Linked DNA regions of Homo sapiens: regions 1 and 2 are each linked to region 3. Evidence: fine-mapped expression QTL. A gene starts in region 3. Each other region holds a variant in brackets. All regions are shown on one strand. Distances are between the middles of the regions. Region 1 holds the start of TMEM184B-AS1 (TMEM184B antisense RNA 1). Region 2 overlaps PLA2G6 (phospholipase A2 group VI). Region 3 holds the start of MAFF (MAF bZIP transcription factor F).

Region 1 (10,584 bases), 28 kb before region 3:
CTTCCAGATAGAGAGGGCTTATGGGCCTGGGGCCCCTGTGGCTTCCCTGGAGGGTTTTGTTGTTCGAGACTGGAAAGCTGATAGTCTTGGGGCCAGCCTCTGAGAGGAGCTCCTCCAGTGTTGGAATGAGAGTGGGGTGTCCCCTCCTGCCCTGCCTGAGCCTGTTGTCATGGCAGGCTCCCCTGGGGAGATGGTCCATGTACGTCTGTCCATTCCTTCCTTCAGTGTTGATGACATGTTTGTAGCTGCCAGGCCCTCCGGTAGTCATTGGAGGTAGGACTGCATTCTACCTGCAAGGAGTTTACAGTCTGGAAAAAGCAGTAGGTAACACACCGTGGACTCTTGACTGTGCCCTCAGCTCATCTAAGGCTCTGCACGTTCACAGCCCCTGACCCCACCAAGGGAGGAGTTATCCCGCTTACAGATGAGGAGATTCGGGCATGGAGCGCTTAAGACACTTGCCTGAGGCCACACAGCTCCTAAGAGGTGGGACCACAGTTCACAACCAAGGCAGGCTGTCTCCAGGGCCCATGGCTCTTTACCTTACTTAATGTTGCTTTTGTGCCGGAGGGATCAGGCAGAGCCCAGAGAGGGGTGATGTGTGAAGTAAGCAGGGTGCAGGACAGAAGAGGCGGCATCTCAGTGGGGTCTGCCTCTGCGGTGAGCAGAGGGACCAGAATGTACCATTGCATGCAGGCGTGAGTGATCACAGCACGTCCCAGGAGCTTCAGTCATGGTTTTATCTGTATTCCACTTACCATGGCTGTGCAAATAACTACTGCCAAAACACACTAGTGTAAAACAACCATCCAGTTTCTTCATGGATATTATAGGTCAAGAATTTGGACTGGGTGCAGGGGAGATAGTTTGTCCCTGCTCCATGACCTCTGGGCCTTGGCAGGAGAGCGTGAAGGCTGGGGCAAATCACCTGAAGGCTCACTCCCTTGTGTGCCTGGCAGTTGATGCTGGCTGTCAGCTGAAGGCCTCGGTTCCCTCACATGAGCCTCTCTGTGCGGTGTCTCCAAAGGCTAGCTCGTGCTTCCCCGCTGCATGGTGACTGAGTGCAAGGACAGGCATTCAAGGGAAAAAGAGCCAGAGGAAAGAGGCCTCTTCCAACCCCTACATCAGATGTCACAAAACATCACTTTGGCTGTGGTTACTCAGGGCCACCAGATACAAAGGGAGGGAACAAGACCCCACCTCTCAGAGGAGGGGTGTCAGCATCACGAGGTGTGGCAGTCTAGAAAATGCAACCGTCGGCCGGGCGCGGTGGCTCACGCCTGTCATCTCAGCACTTTGGGAGGCCGAGGTGGGCGGATCACCTGAGGTCAGGAGTTCAAGACCACCCTGGCCAACATGGTAAAACCCTGTCTGTACTACAAATACAAAATTAGCTGGGTGTGGTGGTGTGCGCCTGTAATCCCAGTTACTCCAGAGGCTGAGACAGGAGAACCACTTGAACCCTAGAGGTGGAGGTTGCAGTGAGCCAAGATCGTGCCACTGCACTCCAGCCTAGGGGATAGAGCGAGACTCTGTCTCAAAAAAAGCAAAAACAAAAAACAAAAACAACAAAAAAAAATACAACCATCATGATATAGCTGGACCCGGCTTAGAATGGACACGGTCATTGTGCTTGGCCTTGTGAGGTTTTGAACAGAGGTTACTGGCAGGCTGACATCAGGTTTGGCTTAATGCCCACCCCTTTCCCTTTGCCCCATAGTTCTTGCTGGTGAAGAGTCATCTGGAGATTGGTGGAGACTTGTCTGTCCTGAGACATCCTGAGCTGCCTCCAGCACAGGCAGGCAGTACACACAGCCCTCAGCCCTGTCTAGGGGCTCCTGGCCCTGCAGGCAGCAGATAGACGGTAATGGTCGTGACAGCCAACACCCAGCGCAGTGAGCCCCGGACACACTTCTGAACACTTTCATGCTCACGCCTCACAGCCACCTGCCAAGTTGGTGCTCCTGTGATCCCCTTTGATAGATGAGGAAACTGAACCCAAAGAGGCTCACACACATCGCATACCTCTGCTGTATGTGTGTGAAGGGTGAAGGGACAGTCACAACAAGGCGTGGTCAGTGCTGGGGGACATATACATGGGGATGCCACCTGGAGATGGGAGCCCTTAATGGATTAGGGCAACCGTGAGTAGCATAAAATGCCGCAAATGTGTTCCTTTCCAAATCGCTGAAGGCCAGCTTTGCCTAAAAAACATCACCAGGGCTTTCCACGCTCCAGTTCAGTCAGTGAAACTGTTGTGGTGTGCCCCGTGTGTGCCATGAGTGGCACCTGTGTCCTGAGGAAGGCGAGAGGGGGAGACCAGTCATTGTGACACAGGGTGGGAAGTGTCTGCAAATCAGGTTCCGTGGGTAGGAGGGCACTCACCTCCACGATGGTCACCGGGGACTTGTCACACTGGGTGCCATCCCAGCTGGGGTTGATGGATCCTGAGAGTACAGCGGGAAGGGTGCTAGAACCTCTGGGATCTGGGAGTGCAGAAGCACCGAAGGATAAGAGAACCTGCTCTGGGGAGAAGTGCAGCATTAGTGCTGCTCGGGAGTGGCGGGAGCTTGGGCAGGGACCAGGTCACCCATTGAAAGATCAAGTGCCAAGCTGGGCGGCACCAGGGAGCCTAAAAGGACTCTGTACTGCAGGGGCTGGCGGGGTCAGATGAGAAGAAGCCCTCTGGCTGGAGGGCCACCGTGGCTCCCTCGACCTGTTCTGACCCTGTTCTGCCCCTCCCCTTGGCCTTGTGCCTTTACTGGATGCCCATCCTCATTCCCATGTCCTCACCCTGGCTCTTCCTCTTGCGTTCTTTCATTTTGGGTACCGTCTGCTGCACCCCTTCCCCCGCCTTCTCCACACTCTCCTCCATCCTGGCATGTCCATTTGCCTCTAGCACCCTGCAGGCAGCAGCCTTCATTTTGCTGACCCAGAAGGAACCACCTGACCAGGAGACCCGTTACAGCGTGTTGCTGTATTTATAGCATCAACATTTACAGCAGACTTGCTGTGCCATCACTCCCGGTGGCAAATTTTGGGTCTTTGTGGAGATGTTGAGCCGAGTCCCAATTTAGAATGAGCAGCCCAAGCTTCCCAAGGTTTTTACTGTGTTCTGTGTGCTGCCGTGTGCTTTGTTGTAGCTCATAGTGCTGTGCGTATTCCGGATACCGCTACAGGTTGTTGACTGGATGAAGGTTCTTCCCTCTCACTCCTGCTTGGAATTTCTCCCAAGATTTTCACAGAGACTGTTTTGTTGTTATCTTATAAAATTGTGACCTGTAACACACAAGTATGTAAGACAAATATTTATTTATAAATACATTAGAGATGAGGTCTCGCTATGTTGCCCAGGCTGGAGTGCAGTGGCTGTTCAGAGGTGCGATCCCACTCTGGAGTTTGACTTGCTCTGTTTCCAACCTGGGCTGGTTCACCCCTCCTTCGGCAACCTGGTGATCCCCCACTCCCAGGAGGTCACCGTACTGCTGCCAGACTTGGTGCAGACACCAGATCAGTGTAGCACACTACAGCCCAGAACTCCCAGACTCAAGACGTCCTCCTGCCGCAGCAGTAGCTGGGACCACAGGCGCATGCCACTGCGCCCGGAAAAACTAATAAAGGCAATACTGTTTCGCCCCAGGGTCGACACTGCCAGCCCTCCCAAACCTCCTGAGTACCCACCCTTACCTCAGCCTCCTCTGGCCTCCCCACATAACCCTGAACTCACGACAGTCCCTTCATAGTATTACGCCAGTGCAGGGGTGCATCCCGGGATAAGATAATTTAGGTGTGCCGGGTTTTGAACTTAGGAGTGGGAGGTCAGATGTCTGTGTTCTTGACGGGCTCCTTTTGCACAACCTTATGTCCCCCAGCCTCCTCCCTGTTGCCACACACAGCTGTGGCTCTTTCACCTCCATTGCTGTTTAGAATCCCAGCATCTGCGGACCCATTCTGCTGATTTGACTGGTTTCTCCTGGACACTCTCTTCGCAGCCTTGGTCATCTATAATTTCCTGAGCCTGTGCTATGAGTACCTAGGAGGAGAAAGTTCCATCATGTCGGAGATCAGAGGAAAACCCATTGAGTGAGTATGGAGTCTTCCCAGAGCCCTAAACCACCCCGTTTCCTGGGCCTGGTGTACCTCGAGCCGTCCTGGCACCAGCTGGACACAGACCATGTCTGCCCGTGACCTTGACCTGCTGTGCCTCACCACATTTCCTGAGCAACGCCATTCTTCTGGGCGTTTTAGGAGGGCCTCTGCGGCTCAGTCTTTCTCTCTCTGTCTCTTCCTGTCTCAGTCTTAGTGCTTTCCTGTCTGTTTCTGCCTCCTGCAGTTTTTACATTCAGAGCTCTCCAAGTTGGTTTGTCACCCCAGGGCCAGTGCAGCCCTGTGTCCCTCCGCCTATGGCATGTGCGGATGCCCTGCCATGCCTCTCCCTGTGCTTGGCCTCGGGTTCAAAGTCTGCCCAGAATGTGTGCCCCAGCTCGTCTGGATGGGTGGGAGGGCGGCCTTCCCCACCCCACTGTTCCCAAGTCCTGGCTCTTCACTCACTGCCACTGCCTGCTATGCTTGTCTCTTCCAGGTCCAGCTGTATGTATGGCACCTGCTGCCTCTGGGGAAAGACTTATTCCATCGGATTTCTGAGGTTCTGCAAACAGGTGTGTGCCCCCAGCAGCTGCCTAGCTCAGGAGGAGCAGGGCGGGGTCTGGGAGGCCCTGCCGTGGGCTGCCCTGGGCCCCACCTTAGAGGTCCCCTTTCCTATGAGGCACCCCAGGC[C/A]CCCAGCACCCACCCCCCGAAGCTGTTAGGCAGATACCACATTAGCAGGGTGTGCTTGGAGGGGCAGCGACCGACATCCTGGGAGTGTCTGTTGCACTGTGGGCAAGAGCTGATCCCAGACTCTTGCTCGTGTGACCAAGTCTCAGTGTGTGTGAAAATCAGAAGAAGTGCGTGGGGATTCTAGAACCTCCATTTGAAAACTTCTCATCAGCTGCAGCTAGGGGGCAGGAGGGTTTTGGCATTAAAGACACACGCCAGAACAGGCCTCTGCCGTCTCTTCGTCTCTCCCTGCATTTCCTGGTTGGCAATCCAGCCGCTCTAGCTTCCTGGGCTGACTTCCCTGTGGTCTAGAGTAGCCTTGGCAGTCCAGCCGCTCTAGCTTCCTGGGCTGGCCTCCCTGTGGTCTAGAGTAGCCTTGGCAATCCAGCCGCTCTAGCTTCCTGGGCTGACCTCCCTGTGGTCTAGAGTAGCCTTGGCAATCCAGCCGCTCTAGCTTCCTGGGCTGGCCTCCCTGTGGTCTAGAGTAGCCTTGGCAATCCAGCCGCTCTAGCTTCCTGGGCTGACCTCCCTGTGGTCTAGAGTAGCCTTGGCAATCCAGCCGCTCTAGCTTCCTGGGCTGGCCTCCCTGTGGTCTAGAGTAGCCTTGGCAATCCAGCCGCTCTAGCTTCCTGGGCTGACCTCCCTGTGGTCTAGAGTAGCCTTGGCAATCCAGCCGCTCTAGCTTCCTGGGCTGACCTCCCTGTGGTCTAGAGTAGCCTTGGCAATCCAGCCGCTCTAGCTTCCTGGGCTGACCTCCCTGTGGTCTAGAGTAGCCTTGGCAATCCAGCCGCTCTAGCTTCCTGGGCTGGCCTCCCTGTGGTCTAGAGTAGCCTTGGCAATCCAGCCACTCTAGCTTCCTGGGCTGACCTCCCTGTGGTCTAGAGTAGCCTTGGCAATCCAGCTGCTCTAGCTTCCTGGGCTGACCTCCCTGTGGTCTAGAGTAGCCTGGGTGGGGGCAGTGTGGTGGGGTCGCTCAGTGTGTGGGCCTGGGTGTCTGACCATCTGAGCCTGATTTCCAGCTTTTCCTCTGACTCTGTGACCTTGGATAATTGGCTTACCCTCTCTGAGCTTTAGTTTCCTCCACTGTAAAATGAGTGTAATGATACTCCTCTCTAGAGATGGTTGTGAGGATCAGATGAGGTCATGGATGTAGAGCTTTCAGCCCGGCGTGGTGGAGCCCACGGCCTCCTGTTCAGGGAGGCAGAGTCTGAGGGGATCACGCCCACTCTTCATGACCTTGCGTTAGTCTCCTCTGGGGCTCCGTAGGGGCTCTGTCATGTCAGCCCCTCCAGCTTCGCCAAGAGTAGTCACGAAAGTACATGAAACCCACAGCCAAGTCACGATGGCCCTGGAGGGCGGGGCCTGCTGCTCCCTTCTGTGCAGGGCCCAGGCCACAGGGCGGGCACACCCACAAAGCCTCCACCTGAACATGCCAAGTCTCCAGTTCTGCTTCCAGACCTTCCTTCCCTAGCATGTTCCTAAATTCAGAATCTCACCACTGGACCTGCAGGGAAAGAGTTAAAACTATCCTGGGTTCAGGGTGGGGCATTGAGAGCCATTGTTTACCAGTTGGTGCAGCCACCCAGGTTCCGGCCAGCTGTGACTCACTGCCTTGTTTGATGATTATATTGTCTACAAAATTTTGATTTCATGATTGTTAGCTAGTGTGGCCTTGTTAGAAATTATTCCCCAGCCCTGTGGGCTCAGATGTTCTGTTCTTGTTCCTGGCGGTGGCAGGGAGAGATATAAGAAGAAAGAGAACAAAAGAGGCCTCTTCCTTTCTTTACCAGGGCGAGAGAGCACACCCCACAGCTTTGTCCTAGAGGCACAGAGACAGGCCTTTGACTCCTCAGGGCCAGTGCTCAATATCCAGACCTTCTGGAGAGATTCCCTACTTAAAGTAGAGATTCCCAGATCAACCACCCACTACCCTAGCCCATAGGAGAAGTTCTGGAATGGAGCCCTGGAACCTGGCACATGTCTAAAGCTCCCTGGGGGTTCTGATGTCCAGCCCAGCCTGGGAACTGCTGACTGGTCCAGGGTATGGTCAGGTGATGATTCTGGGGCCTGCTGGCCTGGGCTCTGCTGCTGCTGCTGCTGCTGCTTCAGCTTCTCTCTGCCTCAGTTTCCTCACCTGTACCATGGGGATAATGACAGCACCCACGTCAGGGGGCTGTCATGAGTACCAGGTGAGCTGACCCAGGGAAACACCAGCCTGTTGCTAGGCTCATAACTGGAACTCATGCAAACTGCCGTTCTTCCCTTTTCCCCAGAAGGTGCCAGTCCCACTTCTCTAGGCGGGATGACAGGGCCAGGGACGTTCTGTGGGGCTTTCTGAGAGTGGGACTGCACGTCTGCCCCATCACGCGGGCCTCTCCGTATGGCAGCCCCATGGTGTGGGCTGCCTGGGGCTCCCCTGCAAGACCCACTCAGATCCCCAGTTGGGGCAGAAGCTGCAGGTTTCACGGATCACGGTTCCCACTCCAGGCTCCTCGTCCTCTTTGCAGCTACACTAGTTGAGCCTTTTGGATTGGATTTAACCTCCCCCAGCTCCTCAGAAGGGGTCTTAGGGCTTAGATTTATTTGCTTTCTAGATAATGGTGATACTAGTGATGTTATGGGCACCATGGGTCCGCCCGTAGGGAATCGGGAAAACCTGGCTGAGGAACTCTTTCCGTGGCTCAGCCAGCTAGCAGGCGCCGTTAGTGCATGTACAGAGGCGGGAGACTCCCGAGAAGATGCTGCGCTTCCTGGCTGTGCCATCCCCGCAGCAGTGGCCCTGTGGTGTGGGGAGTGACTACATCCTTTTCATCAGGGAGTCTGTGCTCAGAGGCCAAGTGTCTGCCCAAGCTGTCCCCAGAGTTCAAACTCAGATTTTGAGACTCTGGAGTCCACGTGCTCTGGGCTCCTGCAGGTCACCTCCATCCCCAGAGTGACCTCTGCTGACCAGAAACCCTGGACCCAGGCCCAGAGAGTAGGGCTAGGAACCAGATCGGGGGTGGACATGGAGGATGGGAGGAGGCCCTCACCTGCGCCGGCTTCCCGGTGGCTGGTTCCTTGAGCAGGGCCCTAGCCTTGCCCCGGGCACCAAGGTCTCCAGGACCTGGCCCTGCCCATCTCCTCAGCCACCTCTCTAGTGCGCAGCCCCTTGCACCTGTCCACCCTCTGCCTCGGGGCCTTGGTGCAAGCTGCCCCCTCTGCCTGTCGAGCCTCTCATCTCCGGCACCCACCTGATGGTCCTGGCTCGAGAAGCTTCCTTGTGTGCATCTCCTGTCTCCCGCCTCCATCGTGCCCTGCCACACCATTCCTCCCTTCCTCCCTCCCTTCCTCCACATGCTCATATCACATACGGCATTGCGCTGGCTGCATCTCCTATATGTTCTGCCCCCCGCCCCGCGCAGACAGCAGTCCCCTGGGAGCAGGACACGTAGCCACCCCCCATCTCCTCCATCTCCTCTATCCTTCCATCCCCTCCATCCCTTCGTCCCTCCATCCCCTCCGTCCCTCCATCCCTCCGTCCTCTCCGTCTCCTTCATCCTCTCTGTCCCTCCATCCGGTACAGTTCCGTCTGCCAGAGGCAGGGCTTGCTTCATGCCTTCTGTGCTCCTCCTCCACACTCAACCTCCTTTTCCCCCCAACAGGCCACCCTGCAGTTCTGTGTGGTGAAGCCACTCATGGCGGTCAGCACTGTGGTCCTCCAGGCCTTCGGCAAGTACCGGGATGGGGACTTTGAGTAAGCAGCGGGTGCTCCCCGGGGTGTGTGGGAGGAGTGTTGGCGCAGGCTGGTGCCTTGGCTCAGGGAAGGGGGCAGCCAGAGTGGCCGCACAGCCATGACCTTCCTGGGTGTCTGGTGCTCACAACCCCCCTGAAGTCTGAGCCCAGCAGTGGACACCCTTGCAGTTGGCCCCGCTGCCAGCCCCGGAGTGAGCCATTGGCAGCAGTCACGTTCATGTCCAGGCTGCAGAGTGGTACCATGAAGGGATGGGCCACAAAGGGACAGTGACCACTGCTGAGGCAGGGAGCGAGAGGGTCAGAGCCCCAAGAGGTCGGCTCAAGTCCACAGATACAAAGCCCGTGCTGTGTAAATTGTCCACACCCATTTCATTCTGGGCTTAGTGAAAGTGACCCCGTGGCTGGGCACAGTGGTTCACGCCTGTAATCCTAGCACTTTGGGAGGCCAACGCGGGTAGATCACCTGAGGTCAGGAGTTCAAGACCAGCCTGGCCAACATGGTGAAACCCCATCACTACTAAAAATACAAAAAATTAACCGGGCGTGGTGACGGGTGCCTATAATCCCAGCTACTCGGGAGGCTGAGGCAGGAGAATCGCTTGAACCCAGGAGGCAGAGGTTGCGGTGAGCCAAGATCACGCCATTGCACTCTAGCCTGGGTGACAAGAACAAAACTCCATATCTAAAAAAAAAAAAAAAAAAAGTGACCATGTGTCTAGCCCTGTGCTTTCAAGCTCTCGGCACACACTGTCTGTGAACTGTGTAACAGCCCTGCCAGGGCAGGTGGGCAAAAGGAGGTCAGGGGGATGCAGCCGACCGAGTGAAAAGGCAGCAGAGCTGAGCAGCGTCACCTATTTTGACGCCTGTTATCTGAGTGTCAGGCTATGGCCTCGGGCCCGGCCCTGGCTTCCACACTGGTGTCCAACGTTAGGAGTGTGGGCACCAGGGCTTAGACAAGTCCACGAGCCACGCAGAGGCAGTAGAGCTGGTCTGGCCTGCAGGCGCACCCCATGTACCCCCACCCCTGTCTGTCGCTTTGATCACCCATTCTGACCCCTTCAGTGGCTCGTTGAGCTCTGCTGGAGGTGTGGGGCTGAGAGCCATGGGGACTGTGTGTGGTGCAGTCGAGGAGAGCCCCTTCCCTCCAAGGGTCTGTCCCAGCCAGAAAATGCTCCCCGTCCCGCAGCGTCACCAGTGGCTACCTCTACGTGACCATCATCTACAACATCTCCGTCAGCCTGGCCCTCTACGCCCTCTTCCTCTTCTACTTCGCCACCCGGGAGCTGCTCAGCCCCTACAGCCCCGTCCTCAAGTTCTTCATGGTCAAGTCCGTCATCTTTCTTTCCTTCTGGCAAGGTGAGCCCCCTCCCAGCACCTGGAGGCTGCCCATGCCACCCTGTCCTCTGCGCTTCCTGCTGCCCCTTCTGCTTATGGTCCCTGGTGCCTGTAGGGCCTGTTCAGAGGGGCCTCAGCCCACTGGGCACTTGCTGGGGGTGAAATCTGAGCCCTCGAGGGCCTTTCCCAGGGGCTAGGGAGAGCTTTGGTGGGGCCGCTACATGGATGAGAGGGCCCAGGAGACCCTGCGTAATTGCTGGCATCTCAGTTTCGGTGGCAAAGAGCTGGGAGAGTGGGGTTTCCGGAGGCTGTGGCCTTGTGTCGCTACCCCTGCCCTGCAGGAGCAGCTGTGGCCCTGCTCACATCCTCACTGGGGCATGTGGGCAGCTGAATGGGGCATTGTGGAAGAAGGGGGAGCAGGAAAGGAATCATTCTGGGTCCAGACACCCGTGCCTCCCCATCCAGGCATGCTCCTGGCCATCCTGGAGAAGTGTGGGGCCATCCCCAAAATCCACTCGGCCCGCGTGTCGGTGGGCGAGGGCACCGTGGCTGCCGGCTACCAGGACTTCATCATCTGTGTGGAGATGTTCTTTGCAGCCCTGGCCCTGCGGCACGCCTTCACCTACAAGGTCTATGCTGACAAGAGGCTGGACGCACAAGGTATGAGCCAGGGTCCTAGGCGACCCCCGCTGGGAGAAGCAG
Region 2 (10,584 bases), 58 kb after region 3:
ATATTTTTAGTAGACATGGGGTTTCGCCATGGCTAGTCTGGAATTCCTGACCTCAGGTGATCCACCCACCTTGGCCTCCCAAAGTGGTGGGATTACAGGTATGAGCCACTGTGCCTGACCTATAATGTTTTTTAAAAATCAGTTTTGGAAAGTTTGCAGACATTAACTTTTCAAATGTAGCTTCCATTTGATTCTTTTTCTACTCTGCCTCTGATCCTCCACTTATGTATGTATGCTAGATCTTTTATTAGATAGTCTGTGTCTCTTATGTACTCTACTATATTTTGTATTCTTCTGTCTCTCCATGCTTTATTCTGTTTACTCTTTCCTGATTATATTTTTTAATTTTGTAATTTCCATTTGATGCTTTTTTGATCATTCAAAACTCTTCACCAAAATTCTAAATTTCCTTTTTTAACCTCTCGAATGTTATCACAGTTACTTTAAAGTCTATTTTGGATAACTTAAATATTTACAGTCCCCTCACAGATATGTTTCTTTTGTATATTGTTTCTGTTGGTTTTCTTTCATGTCTTATCTCCACATATGCCTGGTGAGTTTTGATTATGTGTTGGTCATTGTATTTGCAAGTATGCTCGTAGAAATAATCTGGAATGGCCGGGCGCAGTGGCTCATGCCTGTAATCCCAGCACTTTGGGAGGCTGAGGCAGGTGGATCACGAGATCAGGAGATCAAGACCATCCTGGCTAACATGGTGAAACCCCATCTCTACTAAAAATACAAAAAATTAGCTGAGCATGGTGGCACGTTCCTGTAATCCCTGCTACTCGGGAGGCTGAGGCAGGAGAATCACTTGAACCAGGAGGCAGAGGTTGCAGTGAGCCGAGATCACGCCACTGCACTCCAGCCTGGGTGACAGAGCGAGACTCCGTCTCAAAAAAAAAAAAAAAAAAAAAAAAAGAAATAATCTAGAGCCTAGTTTGATGTTTCCTTACAAAGAATGAATTTATTTTTGCTTCTCCCATTGCAACTAGGATAACCTCAGTCTAGTTTCTGGAACTGAAATCACTTGAGGCTGAACTGTGGTCTCTGTGAGAGCGTGTCTGTGTATGGCTCACCCTTATTCCTAGGCTACGTAGTTCTTTAGGACCCTAACCCAAAGTAAGAGATGTTCATCAGGGCTCTCCTCTTGGCAGACGCCTGGGCTCCAGTCCCTGTGTCCTGAGCCCCATGAGGCTGTTACTGGTGCTGCTCGTCTGCCCATCCTCTCCAGTAACAGCCACCTGAACACTGCAATTCCTGGGTTTCCATCATTCCTTCCAGCCTGGTGAGTCATCAGTGTCTTTTGAGGTATCCAGTGCCTGCCAGCAGATGTTTTTTAATAATTTGTCCAGCATTTCTGGCTGTCCTCAGTAGGTGGTCTGTTTCACATTCCCTAGTCTGCTGTTAATGGAAAGTGGAAGTTCTGAGAGAGAATCATCGTTCCCGTCAGCATTCAAATGCCTGATTACACTTTCCCCATTCGCTATCCTTTCCTTTATTTGCTCCTCACCACAGCAAAACTCCTCAAAAATATCTATCTTTGCAATCTTCAGATTCTCACATTGTGTCCTTAAACCCACTTTAATCAGGCCTTGGTTCCCTCCATTCCACTAAAAGTAATGTTGTCAAGGTCGTGCATGCCTCCGTGATGCTAATTCCAGTGATGAGTTTTCAGTTGTCATTCTCTGACATATCGGCAACACTTGATGTGGAGTACCCTGATGTTGAGAGGCTGGTGAGATGAAGGAAAAACCCAGCCAAGGGCAATGAGGAATGGCTTCCTTCCGCCTCCTCCTTCCCTATCTTTGTTGTGGTTTTTGTTGTTTCTGTAACACTGATTACGTTATAGTTTATTTAATGTACTTCCTTATTCTATGTTTTTACTTTAGTCATTTTGTTGATCTCCTCCATAATAACATAGGCTCGGGCCAAGCACAGTGGCTCACGCCTGTAATCCCAGCACTTTGGGAGACCAAGATGGGTGGATCACTTGAGGTGAGGAGTTCGAGACCAGCCTGGCCAACATGGCGAAACCCTGTGCCTACTAAAAATACAAAAATTAGCTGGGCGTGGTAGCAAGCGCCTGTAATCCCAGCTACTAGGGAGGCTGAAGCAGGAGAATTGCAGGAGAATCACTTGAACCCAGGGGGCAGAGGTTGCAGTGAGCTGAGATCGCGCCACTGCACTCCAGCCTGGGTAACAGAGTGAGACTCTGTCTCAAAAAAAAAAAAAAAAAAAAGGCTTCAGGAGGGCAGAGCATTTTATGCAATTGTTCATTAATTGACCCCTCCATTTGGCACAGATCACATGCCCAGTAGTTAACTGTTAATCAACGCACTCTCTGTGGAACAACAGGCTGGTCCCGTTGAGCCAACACTCTCTGGGCACTGCCTTCACTAGACTCTGGCTGGCTGCTGCGCTTGTAGAGGTATGCAAGACAAAACCTTTTGGTATGTTAAAAGCCCTGGTCAGAACTTTAAGTAACCATCACTGACATATAATGGTTATGGTTTTGAAAGTGCTTTTATAGTGGTTTTTCATCTGTCCTCACAGCACCTCTGGGAGGTAGGTAGGACAGGTACAGTTAGTCTCATGTTTCAAATGGGGCTCAGAGAGGGAAAAGGATTTCCCAAGATCACACAGCACCTTAGTAGCAAAACTTGGACTCAACCTCAACACTTAAAAATGAACAAAGCTGGCCGGGCGCAGTGGCTCATGCCTGTAATCCTAGCACTTTGGGAGGCCCAGGCAGGCAGGTCACCTGAGGCCAGGAGTTTAAGATCAGCCTGGCCAACATGACAAAACTCTGTCTCTTCTAAAAATACAAAAAATTAGCCGGGCATGGTGGCGGGTGCCTGTAATCCCAGCTACTCAGGAGGCTGAGGCAGGAGAATCACTTGAACCTGGGAGATGGAGGCTGCAGTGAGCCGAGATCGTGCCATTGTACTCCAGCCTGGGCAACAAGAATGAAACTCCATCTCAAAAAAAAAAAAAAGAAAAGAAAAGAAAAAGAAAAGTTTCCCTTTTTTTAAATATCTCATTTTAATGACTGCATAATAGTTTATTACATAGTTATACCATAATTTATATAATATTTTGTTGCTGTACATTTAGGTTAAACAATACTTACTTAGTTCCTACTATGAAGAGGGGCCAAGTACTCGAGGCTGGAGCTCTCACATGTGGCAATGAAATTAGAAAGTGGATATGGCAGGGCTGTGGTAAAATAAAATATAAAAATAATAAATGATATTACCAAAGAAAAGGAAAGTTTTTCAAAATAAAGGAAAATCTAGACAAGCATAGTGGCTCACACCTGTAATCCCAGTACTTTTGGAGGCTGAGGCAGGAGGAACACTTGAGGCCAGGAGTTCAAGACCAGCCTGGGCAACATAGCAAGACCCCCTGTCAACAAAAATAAAAAAAAATTAGGCCAGGCACAGTGGCTCACGGTGGCTAGTGCCTGAAATCCTAGCACTTTGAGAGGCTGAGGGGGGTGGATTGCCTGAGCTCAGGAGTTCGAGACCAGCCTGGGCAACATGGCCAAACCCCATCTCTACTAAAAACACAAAAAATTAGCCAGGTGTGGCAGCACACGCCTTTAATCCCAGCTACTCTGGAGACTGAGGTAGGAGAATTGCTTGAACCCGGGAGGTGAAGGTCGCAGTGAGGTGAGATTACAACACTGCACTCCAGCCTGGGTGACAAAATGAGACTCTATCTCAAAAAAAAAAAAAATTAGCTGGGCATGGTGGTGCATGCCTGTAATCCCAGCTACTCAGGAACTAAGGTAGGAGGATCCCTTCAGCCCAGGAATTCGAAGATGCAGTGAGTCATGATCACACCACCGCACCCCAGCCTGGGTTACAGAGCAAGACCTTGTCTCTAAAAAACAAAGAAAGTCTAACCTAAACGCCATTATGTCATTTACATGTGTATAGGGGTGTGTGTGTGTGTGTGTGTGTGTGTGTGTGTGTGTGTGTGTGTGTGTGTTTGCTTGGGAGGGGAGTCGGGCTGGAGCTGGCCAGGCCGCAGCCTGGGGACCTTCTGATTCCAGCAGGGATGTGGGCCGAGGGTCCCGCCTTACTCATTTCGGGTCTTGCTCCTCTGTCCTGGCTCTACAGACTCTTCCAGCTGGAGTTGGAGGCTGACGCCCTAGTGAATTTCCATCAGTATTCTTCCCAGCTGCTACCCTTCTATGAGAGCTCCCCTCAGGTCCTGCACACTGAGGTCCTGCAGCACCTGACCGACCTCATCCGTAACCACCCCAGCTGGTCAGTGGCCCACCTGGCTGTGGAGCTAGGGATCCGCGAGTGCTTCCATCACAGCCGTATCATCAGGTGAGCAAGGGAACAAGACCATTTGGACAACGTGTGTGTACCTGCTTGTGTGGGCAGTGGGGGCCGCAGGCCTCGGTTCCCCTCCATAGTTTGACTTAAAAAGGAGCAGGGCCTGGCATGGTCGCTCACTAACGCAGTCCCAGCACTTTGGGAGGCTGAGGAGGGAGGATCACTTGAGACTAGGAGTTCAAGACCAGCCTGGCAAAATAGCAAGACCTTGTCTCTACGAAAAAATTAAAAAATTAGCATGTGTCTATACTCCTAGCTACTTGGGATGCTGAGGCAGGAGGATTGCTTGAGCCCAGGAGTTAGAGTTTACAGTGAGCTATGATTGCACCACTGCACTTCAGCCTGGGTGACAGAATGAGACCTTGTCTCTAGGAAAAAAAAAAAAAAAAAAAAAAAGGTGCTGCGTTGCTACCAGATTAAAATGTAAGAAGGACAATGTAATGTTTCCAGAGTCCGGAGTGCTCACCAGGTGCCAGGTCTGTGGGAGCTGATTTCTACCCACCATGAAATTGAATTTTCCCAACCCCCACAAGGTATCGTCATTTTATTTTACTTTATTTTATTTTATTTTATTTTATTTTATTTTATTTTATTTTATGTTACGTTATGTTATTTTATTTTGAGACGGAGTCTTATTCTGTCACCCAGGCTGGAGTGCAGTGGCGCGATCTTGGCTCACTGCACCCTCTGCCTCCTGGGTTCAGGTGATTCTCCTGCCTCAGCCTCCGGAATAGCTGGGATTACAGTAATGTGCCATCATGCCCGGGTAATTTTTTTTTTTTTTTTTTTTTTTTTTGAGACGGAGTCTCGCTCTGTCGCCCAGGCTGGAGTGCAGTGGCGCGATCTCGGCTCACTGCAAGCTCCGCCTCCCGGGTTCACGCCATTCTCCTGCCTCAGCCTCCCGCGTAGCTGGGACTACAGGCGCCCGCCACCACGCCCGGCTAATTTTTTTGTGTTTTTTAGTAGAGACGGGGTTTCACCATGTTGGCCAGGTTGGTCTCGAACTCCTAACCTCAGGTGATCTGCCCTCCTTGGCCTCCCAAAGTGC[C/T]GGGATTACAGGCGTGAGCCACCATGCCCGGCCCAGGTATCATCATTCTAGAGAGAGCTAACAGGACTTGTGCAGGTCACTCAGCCAGAGAGGGTGAAAGAGGGGCTTGGATCCTTGGTGTCTGCCCAGGCTGCTCTTCTGGAAGCTGAAGGCCTCCTTTTGTGAATCCATTCAGCCAGCAGATGGAGCAGCTGTTGCCCCTGGTGAGGGCACTGTCCCCACCCTTGCACAGGGCACCAGTTGGCCATCTTGTGCAGAGGTAGCCACACCTCCTCTGAGTCTCTATCCTAGATAGCTCAGTTAAGCTCCCAGGCCCAGAACTCAAAACCTCACTGCTGGCCGGGCGTGGTGGCTCACACCTGTAATCCCAGCACTTTGTGAGGCCGAGGCGGGTGTATCACTTGAGGTCAGGAGTTTGAGACCAGCCTGGCCAACGTGGTGAAACCCCGTCTCTACTAAAAATACAAAAAATTAGCAAGGCGTGGTGGCGCACGCCTGTAATCCCAGCTACTCGGGAGGCTGAGGCAGGAGAATTGCTTGAACCCAGAGGCGGAGGTTGCAGTGAGCCGAGATTGTGTCACTGCATTACAGCCTGGGCAACAAGAGTGAAACTCCACCTCAAAAAAACAAAACAAAACAAAAACCCTCACTGCACTTTAGTTTCCAGGCGTGCTTTTGGACAGCACTGTCTCATCTCACCATCACTCTGTCCATTTCCTGGGGCAGGCACAGCAGCTTGTGTCGATAAGGATATTGACGCCCAGAAAGGTTAAGTGAATTGCCTGAGGCTAGTGAGATATCCGTGTTCTGTGACCCTTTCCTGTGCCACCACCCTGCCCACTTCCTGCTGGTGTGGCCCTGGGGCCCATCTCTTGTACGAGTGAGCAAACTGAACAGAAACCTGATACAGGTCACATCAGATATAATTACATTCAAATCAGCCCAACTAGCTGAGTGGCGGGAATGCTCTTGAGCTCAAATAAACCAGAAAGTCCGAGTTTCCGAGTGCACTTCCCTGCATGTGCACTTAGGTCCCCCTGCCACCTTGTACCACACCTGCTCACCTCTGCTCACCCTGGCCCTCTCCTGCAGCTGTGCCAATTGCGCGGAGAACGAGGAGGGCTGCACACCCCTGCACCTGGCCTGCCGCAAGGGTGATGGGGAGATCCTGGTGGAGCTGGTGCAGTACTGCCACACTCAGATGGATGTCACCGACTACAAGGGAGAGACCGTCTTCCATTATGCTGTCCAGGGTGACAATTCTCAGGTGCTGCAGGTGAGCAGGGGGAGGGGCAGGGTGACTGGTACTGATACCTCCCGGTGTCCACGGTTCCCTTTGGGCCCCTAGGCTCAGGTGTCACTCTCAGGCCTCTCACTGTCCCCCATTGGTCCTTGAGGCCTGAGCTCCTTCATGGAGGGTGCAGACCCCTCCCTGGCTCTTCCCTCCCAGCCCTTTTCCAGGAGCCACGTCCTCAGTCTCTTTGCTTGATAAACCTGGGGACGGCCTCCAACCCAGCAAAATAAACCCCAAAAAAGGCCCAGCTCCAGTCAGTTAGTTCAGTTCCACTTTTCCTGAGCACAAACTGTGAGCCAGATGCCTGCCTGGAGGGGCTCGTGGGCCAGCGGGACCTGGGCTTAACCTTTTGCAAGCTTGTCCAATCTGTGGCCCTGCAGGCTGCATGCAGCCCAGGACGGCTTTGAATGTGGCCCAACACAAATTCACAAACTTTCTTAAAACATTATGAGATCCATGCATGGACCTTTTTTTTAGATCAGCTGTTGTTAGCGTTCATGTATTTTATGTGTGACCCAAGACAATTCTTCTGATGTGGCCCAGGGAGGCCAAAATATTGGACAACCCTATTTTACAGGAATTCAAACCAAGCAAACCAAACTGTCTCCAGTTCCTGTAGGCATTTGTGCCAGAGGCCCTCCTGTTAACGTTTTTGATTACCTGGGCAAAAGATGTGATTTTTTAATTGTGGGCAAGCAGATGGGGTGATACTATTAAATAGCTATTTCATATATTAGATTGAACAGAAAAGGCAGGATGTTGGATTATGTTTTATTGTCTAGAATTAGAAAATTCTTCTAAAGATCATGTTCTCTCTGCCTTGGCATCAGAATGCAACTACGTTATACCAGAAAATGTGGATTCCTTTTTTTTTTTTTTTTTTTTTTTTTTTGAGACAGAGTTTCCCTATGTCTCCCAGGCTAGAGTGCAGTGGTGCGATCTCGGCTCACTGCAACCTCCACCTCCTGGGTTGAAGTGATGCTCGTGCCTCAGCTTCCTGAGTAGCTGGGATTACAGGCATGTGCCACCATGCCTGGGTAGTTTCCGTATTTTTAGTAGGGATGGGGTTTTGCCATGTTGCCCAGGCTGGTCTCCAACTCCTGGCCTTAAGTGATCCACCTGCCTCAGCCTCCCAAAATGCCGGGATTACAGGTGTGAGCCACTGTGCCCGGCCCAGAAAATGTGGATTCATATCTTATGCTTCTTGCTCTCAGGGAAGGGAATTCTCCACCCACTGTTGAACTCCACTTTCACCGAGAATCCTCTGCGCACCCAGCATGGTGCCGCGCAGACCCTGCCTCCATGCGGGGGTGTGCACACCCGCTTCTCGATAGTCATGCACGACTGCAGCTGTCCTTTATCCGGTGCTGATTGGTGCCTGACCTTGAACTGAGTGTTGTATGTGTTCCAGTTAATTCTTAGAATACACTCATGGGGTGGAGGTCATTATTCCCCTTTCCTCTCCGAAGAAACTGAGGTTCAGTGTTGTTAATTAAGAAGCGTGCCCAGGGAGGGCCACAAAGCTGAGAGAGTGGGGCTTGACCTTACATTGGCCTCGATGCCAGCCCTTTGCTCTTCCTGCTGTGTCTCTGGCCTGCCTTCAGGTCCAGTGGGACTGCTGTGAGGTGACCCTGGTGTCACATGGGTACACTGTGGTTGTAATGAACCTCATGGGGACAGCACTGAGCCAAAAGTGAGACAGTAAAACCCTCCTAGCACTTTCTTTTTTTTGAGACAGCATCTAGCTCTGTCGCCCAGGCTGGAGTGCAGTGGTGTGATTGTGGCTCACTGCAGCCTCAACCTCCTGGACTCAGGTGATCCTCCCACCTCAGCCTCCTGAGCAGCTGGGACTACAGGCTCGTGCCACCACATGGGCTAATTTTTTTTTTTTTTGAGACGGAGTCTTGCTCTGTCGCCCAGGCTGGAGTGCAGTGGCGCGATCTTGGCTCACTGCAAGCTCTGCCTCCCGGGTTCATGCCATCCTCCTGCCTCAGCCTCCAGAGTAGCTGGGACTACAGGCGCCCGCCACCACACCCGGCTAATTTTTTTTGTATTTTTAGTAGAGACAGGGTTTCACCGTGTTCGCCAGGATGGTCTTGGTCTCCTGACCTTGTGATCCGCCTGCCTCGGCCTCCCAAAGTGCTGGGATTACAGGCGTGAGCCACCACACCCAGGCCACGCCAGCTAATTTTTAAAATTTTTTTGGTAAAGATGGGGTCTCCCTATGTTGCCGAGGCTGGTATCACACTCTTGGTCTCAAGTGATCCTCTCACCTCCCAGTGTGTTGGAATTACAAGCATGAGCCACTGCGCCTGGCCCCTGGCTCTCTTTTTAATACTGCTGTTCTTTCATTGAAAACATAGTACCTGCATGTAGAAAAAAATCAGTCAGGACAGAATGAAAAGCAAGAATCATTCCCACCTGGACCCCCAGTGCCCATCCTGAGATACAGCTACCTTTTAAGTTCCTTGACTCAGAAATGTTTCATGTGAGCCACAGTCATGCCAGGTCGACCCCTTCCCTCCCATCCACACTGGCACTTGGCTTTCCTGGTGCTTCTCTTTACGTTCTTTTTTTTTAGACAGAGTTTTTGCTCTATTGCCCAGGCTAGAGTGCAATGATGCAATCTCAGCTCACTGCAACCTCTGCCTCCTGGGTTCAAGCGATTCTCTTTCCTCAGGTTCCTGAGTAGCTGGGATTACAGGTGCCTGCCACCATGCCCGGCTAATTTTTGTATCGTTAGAAGAGACGACATTTCACCATGTTGGCCAGGCTGGTCTCAAACTCTTGACCTCAGGTGATCCACCCACCTTGGCCTCCCAAAGTGCTAGGATTACAGGCATGAGCCACTGCGCCCGGCCTCTTTACGTTCTTATCAGCATCCTATGGAGTCAAACTTCCCTTCCTCTTTCATCAGCTCCTTGGAAGGAACGCAGTGGCTGGCCTGAACCAGGTGAATAACCAAGGGCTGACCCCGCTGCACCTGGCCTGCCAGCTGGGGAAGCAGGAGATGGTCCGCGTGCTGCTGCTGTGCAATGCTCGGTGCAACATCATGGGCCCCAACGGCTACCCCATCCACTCGGCCATGAAGTTCTCTCAGAAGGGGTAAGACCTCCTCCCCTCCCCATCTGCTGGCCTGCTGGGCTCCAGCTCTCCTGTCACCTGTCCCGTGCCTGAGGCAAGCAGTATCCACCATAGATCTTAGCATCTCCAGCCTCAGAGCAGAGGCCCCGGGTTCACAAGCCTCATTAGGCCCCGCCTGGCCCAAAGAAGGTGCTCCATCATTGTATCATGGGTAGGAATCTCGGTTCACAAGTTCAGCTGTGCAAGGAGGAGACTTTAAAATTTTTCTGGCTGGGCGCGGTGTCTCACGCCTGTAATCCCAACACTTTGGGAGGCTGAGGTGGGCAGATCACCTGAGGTCGGGAGTTCGAGACCAGCCTGACCAACATGAAGAAACCCCATCTCTACTAAAAAATACAAAATTAGCTGGGCGTGGTGACACATGCCTGTAATCCCAGCTACTTGGAAGGCTGAGGCAGGAGAATCGGTTGAACCCGGGAGGCGGAGGTTGCAGTGAGCCGAGATCGCACCGTTGCACTCCAGCCTGGGCAATAAGAGCGAAACTGTCTCAAAAAATAAATAAATAAATAAATAAATAAATAAATAAAAATAAATTTATTTAATGTACCTTAATTCCTAGGAGTGAATCTCCCTCTATAAAACTGGAGACAACCAATCTTAGCCCTCTTTGGGGTCTCCTCTTTCCAGCTCCCCTCCAGGTGGTGCTCCAGTTCTGGAGTCTGATGCAACCCCAAGGCCCACCTGGCCCCTCCTCTAACCCAGCCCAGCCTGATCTGAACAGCCCCCCGATGGCTTCAGTGCTCCTT
Region 3 (10,584 bases):
GAGCTGAGATCGCGCCACTGCACTCCAGCCTGGGTGACAGAGCGAGACTCTGTCTCAAAAAAAAAAAAAAAAAAAAAAAAAAAAAAAAAAAGATGGCCAAGCAAGGTGGCTCATGCCTGTAATCCCAGCACTTTGGGAGGCCGAGGTGGGCGGATCATGAGGTCAGGAGACTGAGACCATCATGGCTAACACAGTGAAACCCTGTCTGTACTAAAAATACAAAAAATTAGCTGGGCCTGGTGGCACACACCTGTAGTCCCAACTACTCAGGAGGCTGAGGCAGGAGAATCGCTTAGAACCTGGGAGGCAGAGGTTGCAGTGAGCCGAGATTACGCGACTGCACTCCAGCCTGGGTGACAGAGCAAGACTCCATCTCAAAAATAATAATAATAATAATAATAGAATTCAGGCCTGAGGCCACATGGAGCCACACACCTCCTCCCTGTGTGGCCCTGGCAGGGCGACCTCCCTGGGCCCTGTTTCCCTAGCCCTGTGAAGATGAAGCTGGACTTGCCAGTTTCCAAGGCCACCCCAGCTCTGATTCTCCAGGATTTGTGTTGGGCCCGCTAGGGATACGATTTGCAAGTTACAGTTAAGTATCCAGGCCCCCTTACCAGCCGTTTGGGGAGCTGGCACGTGCAGTGATGCTTGGCCACCTGAGCTACACAGAAAGACCCAATGGGAGAAGGGAAGCCTCTCCCCACGCAAGTTAATCAACTGCCCTTTGGGTGTTGCGGCTGATACAGAACCTCAGAGGCACAGTCTGGCCTCATGCACAAGTCATTTTTCCTGAGTCCTGGATTCCTTGCTAAGTGGGAATAATCACAATAATCTTGGTGTGTAAAATATAAAGGCTTAGGCAAGGCCAGGCGTGGTGGCTCACGCCTGTAATCCCAGCACTTTGGGAGGCCAAGGTGGGCAGATCATCTGAGGCCAGGAGTTCAAGAACGGCCTGGCCAACATGGTGAAATCCTGTCTCTACTAAAGAAAAAAAAAAATGCAAAAATTAGCCAGGTGTGGTGGCGCACACCTATAGTCCCAGCTACTTGGGAGGCTGAGGCAGAAGAATTGCATGAACCCGGGAGGTGGAGGTTTCAGTGAGCTGAGAACAAGCCACTGGACTCCAGCCTGGGCAACAGAGCGAGACTCCATCAAAAAAAAAAAAAAAAAAAAAGGAGGCATAGGCAAGAAAGATCACCTCATCTCACCATCATCCCACTATCCACAAGCAACAGAGACATCACTAACCACACACAGCACCAATTCCCAGTGAGGCAGGCCACAGCCCCTGAGTCTTTCTCAGCACAGAACTGTTTTCTCCTGAGCTTGGACACAGCCTAGAATCCTCAACACTGCCTCCAGACCAGGCCTGAGAGATGGAACCATCAGCCATTCCCTATCCTTGATAATAGCGGAAGCTGGCTGTGATTGTAAATACCCTCAGGTGCTAGGAAGGTTTTGAACCTGCTCTTCCCCCACTCCTCCATGCCCTCCTGTCCGAGCCTCAGCCCCCTCAACCGCATCCTGGATGTCAGCTGAGGCACCCACGTTTGCCCAGGAATGTCCTAGCTCAGCAGTCAGGCAATCACAGGGGGAAAGTCACAAGAAGGGGGAACTTTCTGGTAACCTCAGGCTTTCCGCTGCCAACCCCAGGCCAGGGGCTGCCAAGGGGCCTGGGTCCTCTGCCTTTGCCAGGCTGGCTGACCCTGGGCCTGAGAAATAGTAGCTGATCCGATCCCCTGTTCAGCACCTGAGGCAACCAAGCCACTGTTTGGTAGCCGTGGCGGACTGGAACCCAGGGGTCCTCTGTCTTCTATGTCGGCCACCACCACCTCTCCCTGGCTTCTTCCCTTGGAAGCCAGCAGAGCTGACCTCCAGGGTCTGCAGGTTCATGACGTCTTCTGGAGGCATAAGGAGAGAGGTGACTCTTGAGGGACTGACAACTGCCTTGTCCAGTCAGCAGCCACAACCCTCCAACGTCCCCCTCCCTGGCCCCACCAGTCCACTCCAGAGACATCCTGTAGAAGGCCCACCCGCTGGCATGGGCTCCTTTCTGGCTGCTGAGCCATTCTGCTCGCTCTGTGAGGACAGGGAAAAAATGTGTTTTCCTAGCTCTTGGCAGTCAGCACTGCTGGAGCCTCCTCCCTGCTGGAAGGGGAGCAAGGCTGGAAGAACCAAGCACCACAGAGAAGCAACGGCCTGGGGTTCCAGCCCCAGTTCAGGTACCCTCTCACACTCGCTGTGTGGCCTCAGGTACGGCACTCCCTCTCTCTGGGCCTCAGTTTTCCCACTATGCCAAACGTCCTCCGAGCCTAAGGTACCTTCCAACAATGACTGTCTCTGAGTTTAGAGTTTCAGATTCTGGCCCAGAGCTCCAAGACCACCAGCAGAATGGAGGTAGGGAAAGGAAAGCGGTGAAGGCTTCCTGGAGGTGGGGGCATGAGACACAAACTATCAGACTATCAGACTAGCCCTCTTCTCCACCTGCACAGCCACAGACCACTTCCTCCTTCATCTGGACCATGACCACAACCGCCTGCTCACCAGCCTCTTGCCTTGCCCTCCGTCTCCAATCCCCATCATTGATCCTCCCCCAAGAGCTGTCAGAGGAATCACTACTGACACAAACCCACGAGCCTGTCCGTGCTTGGCCCATTTCAAAACCCTGCAATGCCAGCCTCCCCGCAAGCCAACACAGTAGGGTCCTCAGGCCTCAACCGTATTCCTGTCCACTCTCTCCCAGGATCGTATGCTAACAGATGAATGAACAGACAGCAAATTCTACTATCCCTGAATGTTTCCCAAAGGGACAAGCGGGCAGTGCATGCCTGTGTGTGTGAGGGAGGAAGTTGCCTGAGTCCTGAAGGATTTGCTCGCTTTTGGGAGACTGCTTCAAGATTCCCCCAGCCCCTGCCCTGGCTTCCTGTTTCTCTGGGGTTCCCAGGCCTTTTTCTCCATGTGTTGTGGAGCTCTTAGAGGGCAGGGATCCAGGGCTCATTCATTCAATCAGCAAACATCCAAGAAGCACCTACTATGTTCCAGGCTCTGTGCTGGGCCCTGGAGACCCTGAAGTGAATCACAGCTCCTGCCTTCAAGGGCTTCACAGACAACCACCACTCTATCAGACTCAGCACACTAGTCACCTCCCCAGGGAAGCCTTCCTTGATTGCCCTGGCTAAGTCAGAGCGCTGTTATGTACTTTCAAACCACAGTGACTTCTCCCTCACATCACCCATCTAAGCTGTGTTTTGCATTTACTTCTGTGGATCTTTTTTCAAGTTTGTGTCCGCTGCTGAGCTATAAGCTCCCAGAGGGCAGTCTCTGGATCTGGTCTGTTCATCTCATCCCTGGCATCTGGTCCAGGACAAGGGCCCAATGGCAATGCAGGGCCCAGGGGTGATTCAATGGGAAGTTAAACTTCTCAGTGCTAACTTTCCATCTGGGACTGAGTCAACCAGCCACTTCCCCTCATCCCCTGACCCCAGGCCCTACTTTGTAATGTTTCCTGCCCAGCTTTGAGGGTGGGCCTGTCTGGTTCCTGTGCTCCTGGCCCCAACCCTCCTGACTCAAACCCCACCTACTCTTGGGTACCCCCAGCTCCTGGCATGGGGCTGTCAGCCCTGCTTTCTCTTCCACAATTCACCTGGAAAATACGCTGTCTGCACAGACTTCCAGAGCTTCCCCCTTCTACCCACCATCCTGCCATCCTGGCTGTTACCTAGTTCCCAGTGGTAGATGGGAATACTGAGGGTCCGGGCTGCTGTAGCAGAGCTCACCCAGGGTTCAAAGATCCAAAGTCAAAAGATCATTGGTTCCTCACCCTAGCAAGTTCAATTGCTCCCCTCCCACAATTCCATAGACCGTGGGTGGGTGGGTGGAGGGGGAAGGTGGATTAAGACCAAGGAATCTCTAGCCCCCAGCCCATCCTGCAGGCGGCTACGACAAACAGGTGCTTTCTGCAGGGCTATTGGGTGAGTGGGTGGGTGGCGGCTAGGTCAGGCCCCACCCCTCACTCATTAACCCTCCGTGCAGTCAGAGTTCTATCCCCAATGCCTACTGACCCTGCCTGGCCCAGGGTGAGGGCACTCGGGGTCTGTCGGCTGGCTCAGAGCCTCAGCTAGCTTCCGGCGTCCAGCTGTAGGTCAGTCTAGTCTCACCAGTCCCACTTGTGAACTGAAACTACCAGGAGAGCGGAAACCGGCTCCGCCCCATCCTCCACGACCTAGCAGGTACAGCCTCCAGAACCCGGACTAGCTAAAAGCCTGTGGTCCTCTCCCTGCGCCGCACCCTTGCAGTCAAGGTTTTCTGGCCCTTCCTGTTCTCATGGGACTGAGGGGATGGGCAACCCTGGGGACGAACGAGAGTCCCTTGGTTCTTCCCTCCCCAGGAAGCCCCAAAATCTGGGGACAAGAACCTGGGCTCCAACTCACTTTGTTACCAGATCCACCGGGGTGCCAAGCGGGGGTGGCTCACATCCCTCACTCCTAGCTCAGCTGGGTGGGGTCTTTGATACCTTGCCCCACCCTGTGGCTGCGGGCGCGGGCTCTGGGCGGGAGACAAACACTGGGGTCACGTGGCGGAGGCCCTGGGAAACTCCGGGGAGAGCCGGGGACGGACAGCCCCGGGTAGTAGGACTGGGGCGGCCCGGGCCAGAATTCCCAGACCCCGTGCGAAGACGCACGGGTCCGCTTCCTTCGCTCGGGTCCTTGTTCCGCGTTTACTCCGGTGGCCGGCCCAGGGCACGCCCTCTCCGAGGTACACACTGCTGGTGTACAGGCCCCAGGGAGCGCGCGCGCGGACACGCACACACAAGCACAACACACGCACACACGCCCCCGAGGTACACAGCGCACGCACGCACCGGGCAGGATACCCAGGCCGCCCGCCAGGGAACACACGCCCGCCCTCGGACGTAAACAAACCGCGCACGCACCGCCCGCGGGCGCCGGGCCAGGGCCTGTTCCCACCGAGTCACGTAGGAGCACAGCGCCCCCGCCCCCGCCGGGCGGACGCGGAGATCGCCGGCCTGCGCTGCCCCTTCCTCCCGGCGCCGCCGCCTACCCGCCCGCGCCCCGGGAAGGGGCCCCGTCTCCACCCCCACTCCCCCGAGCTGGCCTCGGCCCCGTCCTCGGCGTCCCCGGGACGGCCGCTCCCTTCTCCCCGCCCCGAGCCGTCCGGGCGATGGAGCTCCGGGAGCCCCGACGGATCGGGCCCGGGCGCCCACCCCAGGCGCATCCCGGGACGCAGAAACCCTGCCGCCTTGGGGTCCCGCGCACCGTCCTCCTGGTCCCGCGTTCCTCACCCGCTTCTGGGCCCGCTTGGTCCGGCGCGCTCACACACGCGCGTCTCGCCGCTGTCCCGGCCGCTGTCCCGATCCGCGCTCCGGTCAGTCTCCCCTCCGCTCTGAGCCGCAGGTCGCTCTGAACCGGGCGCCCGGGAGCGCTGCGCTGAGTTTTGTTGTGGGGCGGGCGGCGCAGGGGGCCGAGGCCGCGCGGAGTTGTAAGGCGAGCTTCCCGGAATTACTCACTCACAGGATTCCTTTCATTCATAAAAACCCAGTCATGCGGTGACGTCACCGACCCGGCCGCCCTCCGGCCAGGAGCGGCCGCTTGGTCCCTCGGCCCCGCCCCCGTATGACCCCGCCCCCTGGAAGCCCCGCCCCCGGGGCTGCCGCGATTCTCTGCCTGGTTCCAGGGCTCGCTGGGTGCGTTCACGTGACACCTCGCGAGAGCCCCGTGGGTGTAGGTGTCATTGGCTCATTTTACAGGTAGTGGTCCTGGCCCTCTTCTTTCGACCTAGACCTTCTGCCTTAATGATCTCATCCAGTCCCGTGGCTTTAAATGACATTTATATGGCTATGAGCCCCAGGTTTGTATTTCCGGAGCGAACAGCTTCTCTGAGTTCCAGACTCATAGCCAGCTGCCCACTCTGCGCATCCAGTGGGTGTCAGATGGGCACTGCAGAGGACTCGGCCCAAAAACCCGCTCCTGATCGTCAGCCCTACCTCTGCTCCCTTGCCACCCCATCTCAGCTGCTCAAGCCAAAACCTTGGAGCCTGGCTCCATCCCTCCCTCTCCCTTCCTCCCCACCTCAGGACTCAAGCTAGCGGTGTCTCCAGGTCTCCTGCATAGGACCATTTCTCACCACCTCCAGTCATGGCACCTGGTCTCGGCACCATCAGCTTACCCGGACAATGGCAGCAGCCTCCGAGGCTCCCTACTTTGCCTCCAAAGTCTTTCTTTCTATACCAGCCAATGTTCTTCTCAAAACAAAGCTCAGGTTGTTTACACACCTTCTTTGGCCACTCTCTCCTCATCCACTGCTCTTCGGCCACAGTGCCCTTCTTTCTGTCCCCCAAACATACCAAGCTCATTCCTGCGACAGGCCCTTGGCACTGGCTGTCTGGTCTTCTGTTCACTTGCCTGACTCTTTCTCATCTTTCACGTCAGCCCGGATGTCACTGCCTCAGAGAGACATTTCCTGACCACCCTGGTTAAAGCAGTCTTCACCTCTGAATTTTTTTTTTTTTTTCGAGACAGGGTCTCACTCTGTCACCCAGGCTGGAGTGCAGTGGCACAATCTCGGCTCACTGCAACCTCCTTCTCCTGGACTCCAGCCATTCTCCCACCTTAGCCTCCCAAGTAGCTGGGACCATAAGCACACACCACCATGCTAGGTTCATTTTTTGTATTTTTTTTTTTTTTTTTTTTTTTTTTTTTTTGTAGAGACAGGGTTTTGCCATGTTGCCCAAACTGGTCTCAAACTCCTGGACTCAGGCAATCCACCCACGCTGGCCTCCCAAAGTAATGGGATTACAGGCGCAAGCCACCGCACCCAGCCTTGAAATTTGTTCTTATATTATCTTAATACTTCTGTAGGGTGTTTCATCATTTATGTATGTGAGTGCTGGTTATTGTCTGTCTTCCCCAACCAGAATGTATGTTTTATGAAGGCAGGCCTTGCTTCTTTTTCTTTTTCTTTTTTTTTTTTTGAGACAGAGTCTCACTCTGTTGCCCAGGCTGGAGTGCAGTGGCATAATCTTGGCTCACTGCAACCTCCGCCTCCCAGGTTCAAGGAATTCAGCCCCCCAGTAGCTGGACTACAGGTGAGTCACCATGCCCAGCCAGGCTGGTTTTGAACCCCTGACCTCAGGCCACCCACCTCGGCCTCCCAAAGTGTTGGGATTGCAGACATGAGCCACTGCGCCTGGCCAGGCTTATCTTGTTCACCACTGCCTGCCCAGTGCCTGGAGTAGTGCTTGGCACATAGTAGGCCCACAGTAAATACATGTTGAAGGAATACATGACTGGAGGCTCAGAGAGGTGAAGGTGACTTTCTAAATTCACTCAGCTAGGAAGTACAAGCACTGGAATTGGTATCCAGGTCTGAATGATTCCTGGCCCAGATGTTTGGGGGTACATCGCAACCAGGGGAGGAGGGCCACATAAACATGAGGGGTGTGCGCCGTGGTGGGAAGCCCCACCCAAAAGAGATGGCTTTGGAGGCCACGTGCGGGGTGGATGTTGCTGTTCATCCCCTGCTTTCCTTTGCTCATGATGTTCCCACTGCCTGAAATTCCATCGCTCCCACAGTCCCTCCTGTGAAGCCGACATCATGGCACTTACTCCACTGTGGAGGGCATAGGGCCTCTCCAAATGGGTAGGCCTCTATGTGGCACCCTGATCACCAGTAAGGATCCCCACTTTCCTTTTTTTTTTTTTTTTTTTGAGCCGGAGTCTCGCTGTGTTGCCCCAGGCTGGAGTGCAGTGGCGCGATCTCAGCTCACTGCAAGCTCCACCTCCCGGGTTCACGCCATTCTCCAGCCTCAGCCTCCCGAGTAGCTGGGACTACAGGCGCCCGCCACCGCGCCCTCCTAATTTTTTTTTTTTGTATTTTTAGTAGAGACGGGGTTTCACCGTGGTGTCGATCTCCTGACCTCGTGATCCACCCGCCTCGGCCTCCCAAAGTGCTGGGATTACACGCGTGAGCCACCGCGCCCAGCCCCCCACTTTCCTTGATGTAGCAAATTCGATTTCAGCGCCCTTGTCTTGCTTTCCTGCCTCTGTGCCTTGGTCCACCAGACACTATGGCTTCTTTCCGTTCCCTCCCACAGGCTGTGGGTTTGGTATGCAAATTGGCCCACTAGTTTCCCAAGTGACCAAATGTTGAGGCAGCTTTGTCTAGCACTCAAAAGGATCTCTAAAAACCAATTGCTCAGTCCTCTCCATGTGCATAGCAGAAAGAGCCACCTAGGTTAACCTTTGGGGTAGGAAAGTTCTCAGTTTTAGAAACTGCACAATGGTGAGTTGTCTATTTTCTCTACCCCCCACCCCCTTTAAAACCAAAACCAAAACAAAACAAAACAGGGTCTTGCCCTGTTGCCCAGGCTGGAGTGCAGTGGCATGATCATAGCTCACTGCAGCCTTGAACTTCTGGGCTCAAGCGATCCTCTCACCTCAGCCTCCCGAGTAGTTGGGACTACAAGTGTGCATCACTGTGCCTGGATAATTTTTCTATTTTTTGCAGAGATGGAGGTCTCACCATATTGCATAGGTTGATCTTGAACCCTTGGCCTCAAGCCTTCCTTCTGCCTCAGCCTCCCAATCTACTCCCTTTTTTATGAGCTTCTCAAGAGCTGGGGCCACACCTGGAACACTGTAGGTGCTCAGCTAGTGAGTGAATTCTCAGTGGACCTGAACAACACTCCTGGACACCATGCTGCCTAGATCCTTTACTCCCATCCCCAGCCTGCCAGAACAAGGGGGTCAGTGCCTCATTATCCACCCTGCAGGGACTGCTTCCCATAGACATAGCTCCCTTTCTGGTCAAGATCAAGGGCCATGGTGCAATGTCCTATTTAAAAGTGGGAGCTCAGGCTGGGCATGGTGGCTCGCACCTGTATTCTCAGCACTTTGGGAGACCGAGGCAGGAGGATCACTTGAGCCCGGAGTTTGAGACCAGCCTGGGCAATATGGCGAAATCTTGTCTCTATTAAAAAAAGAAGAGGAAGAAAAAAAAAAAAGAAATGACCATCAGGCAGCCACCATAGTAATCATGGGTTGCAGCAAGAATCACCAATGGATATGAAAGCTTGATGAGAAAGTATTTACATAGTTTCAAGTTATTTACCCACAAGATGATAATTAATTATGGAAGGAAAAATAATAACTCTGCAGTGGAGAAATTTGGCAGACACAACCTTCGCTAAGTGATCAAAGTTAATATCACCAGTAAGGGGCAAATTGCCACGGAGTTTGTAGATGAGGTAATTACTGCATGGATGCCCAACTTCCTGGCTTCAATGCTTGTCCTGTGGTCATAGAAGAGAATGTGTCCTTGATTTTAGGAAATATACACTGGAGTATTTATTTATTTATTTATTTATTTATTTTTTTGAGATGGAGTCTTGCTCTGTCACCCAGGCTGGAGTGCAATGGTGCGACCTTGGCTCACTGCAACCTCTGCCTCCTGGGTTCAAGTGATTCTCCTGCCTCAGCCTCCTGAGTAGCTGGGATTACAGGCACCCACCATCATGCCCGGCTAAATTTTGTATTTTTGTAGAGACGGGGGTTTCACCATGTTGGCCAGGCTAGTCTTGAACTCCTGACCTCAGGTCATCTGTCTGCCTCGGCCTCCTGAAGAGCTGGGATTACAGGTGTGAGCCACCGTGCCTGGCCCACTAGAGTATTTAGAGGTAAAAGGCATCATGTTTGCAATTTACTCTGACATGGTTCTGAAAATAATACATATAGATAGATAGTGTTATGGGTGGAATTTCATAATGTTAAAATGTGTATGTTGAAGTCCTAATGCCTAAAAATCTCAGAATGTGACTGTATTTGGAGATAAAGTTTTAAAAGGCATAAGTAAATTAAAATATATACGGTAGGCCCTAATCCAATCTGACCAGTGTCCTTATAAGAAAAGAAAATTTGGCCAGGCGCAGTGTAATCCCAGCACGTTGGGACGCCAAGGCAGGCAGATCACTTGAGGTCAGGAGTTTGAGACCAGCCTGGCCAACATGCAAAACCCTGTCTCTACTTAATTAAAAAAAAAAAAATTAGTCGGGAGTTGTGGCACATGCCTATAATCCTAGCTACTCAGGAGGCTGAGGCAGGAGAATTGCTTGAACCTGGGAGGCAGAGGTTGCAGTGAGCCGAGATCACGCCATTGCACTCCAGCCTGGGCGACAGAGCGAGACTGTCTCAAAAAAAAAATTGTTTTTTGAAAGTAGGGACTCTCAAGTCAGCCTGTCGGGTTCAGATCCTGGCCCCACGCCTCATCAGCTGACGTCATCTCCACCCTCTATAAACCGGGCTAATAGTGCCTCCTTTGCAGGCTGTGAAACAACATAATGTGTTTGCACTTATAAGCCTCTGGCACAGCGCTTAGTATATAATAAAAGATCAATAATATCAGGTTAGAGAGAGGAGTCCTCTACAGCAGGGGTCCCCAAATCGCAGGCTGAGGACCAGTACTGTTTGTCCGTGGCCTGTTAGGAACCAGCGGGCTGAGTGAGCGTCACCGCCTGAGCTCCGCCTCCTGTAGGATCAGCACTGGCATTGGAGTCTCATTAGGAGCGTG

What was found.
Region 1: its variant is fine-mapped to the expression of MAFF in blood mononuclear cells (TOPMed, PIP 0.92).
Region 2: its variant is fine-mapped to the expression of MAFF in whole blood (TOPMed, PIP 0.94).

What each region holds. Positions count from the first base shown.
Region 1 is chr22:38,224,743-38,235,326 of GRCh38, reverse strand. It overlaps TMEM184B (transmembrane protein 184B), which reads left to right. Exons shown (of 9, transcript NM_012264.5): 4 at 3,993-4,083; 5 at 4,583-4,658; 6 at 8,457-8,548; 7 at 9,734-9,903; 8 at 10,348-10,542. It overlaps TMEM184B-AS1 (TMEM184B antisense RNA 1), which reads right to left and starts at 4,007. Exons shown (of 2, transcript NR_186700.1): 1 at 3,912-4,007; 2 at 3,079-3,279. It also overlaps the pseudogene RN7SL704P. RefSeq lists enhancers at 5,613-6,343, 10,168-10,584. The variant C/A (reference allele first, on the strand shown) is at 4,777.
Region 2 is chr22:38,139,197-38,149,780 of GRCh38, reverse strand. PLA2G6 (phospholipase A2 group VI) reads left to right here. Exons shown (of 17, transcript NM_003560.4): 3 at 4,128-4,343; 4 at 6,493-6,676; 5 at 9,612-9,799. Among named protein-coding and RNA genes, the nearest start is that of BAIAP2L2, 34 kb to the right of the region's middle. RefSeq lists an enhancer at 6,532-7,032. The variant C/T (reference allele first, on the strand shown) is at 5,401.
Region 3 is chr22:38,196,931-38,207,514 of GRCh38, reverse strand. MAFF (MAF bZIP transcription factor F) reads right to left here and starts at 5,521. Exons shown (of 3, transcript NM_012323.4): 1 at 5,303-5,521. RefSeq lists enhancers at 1-15, 2,855-2,999, 8,384-8,433, silencers at 2,665-2,714, 3,935-4,014, 4,865-5,304, 5,365-5,694 and a cis regulatory region at 2,927.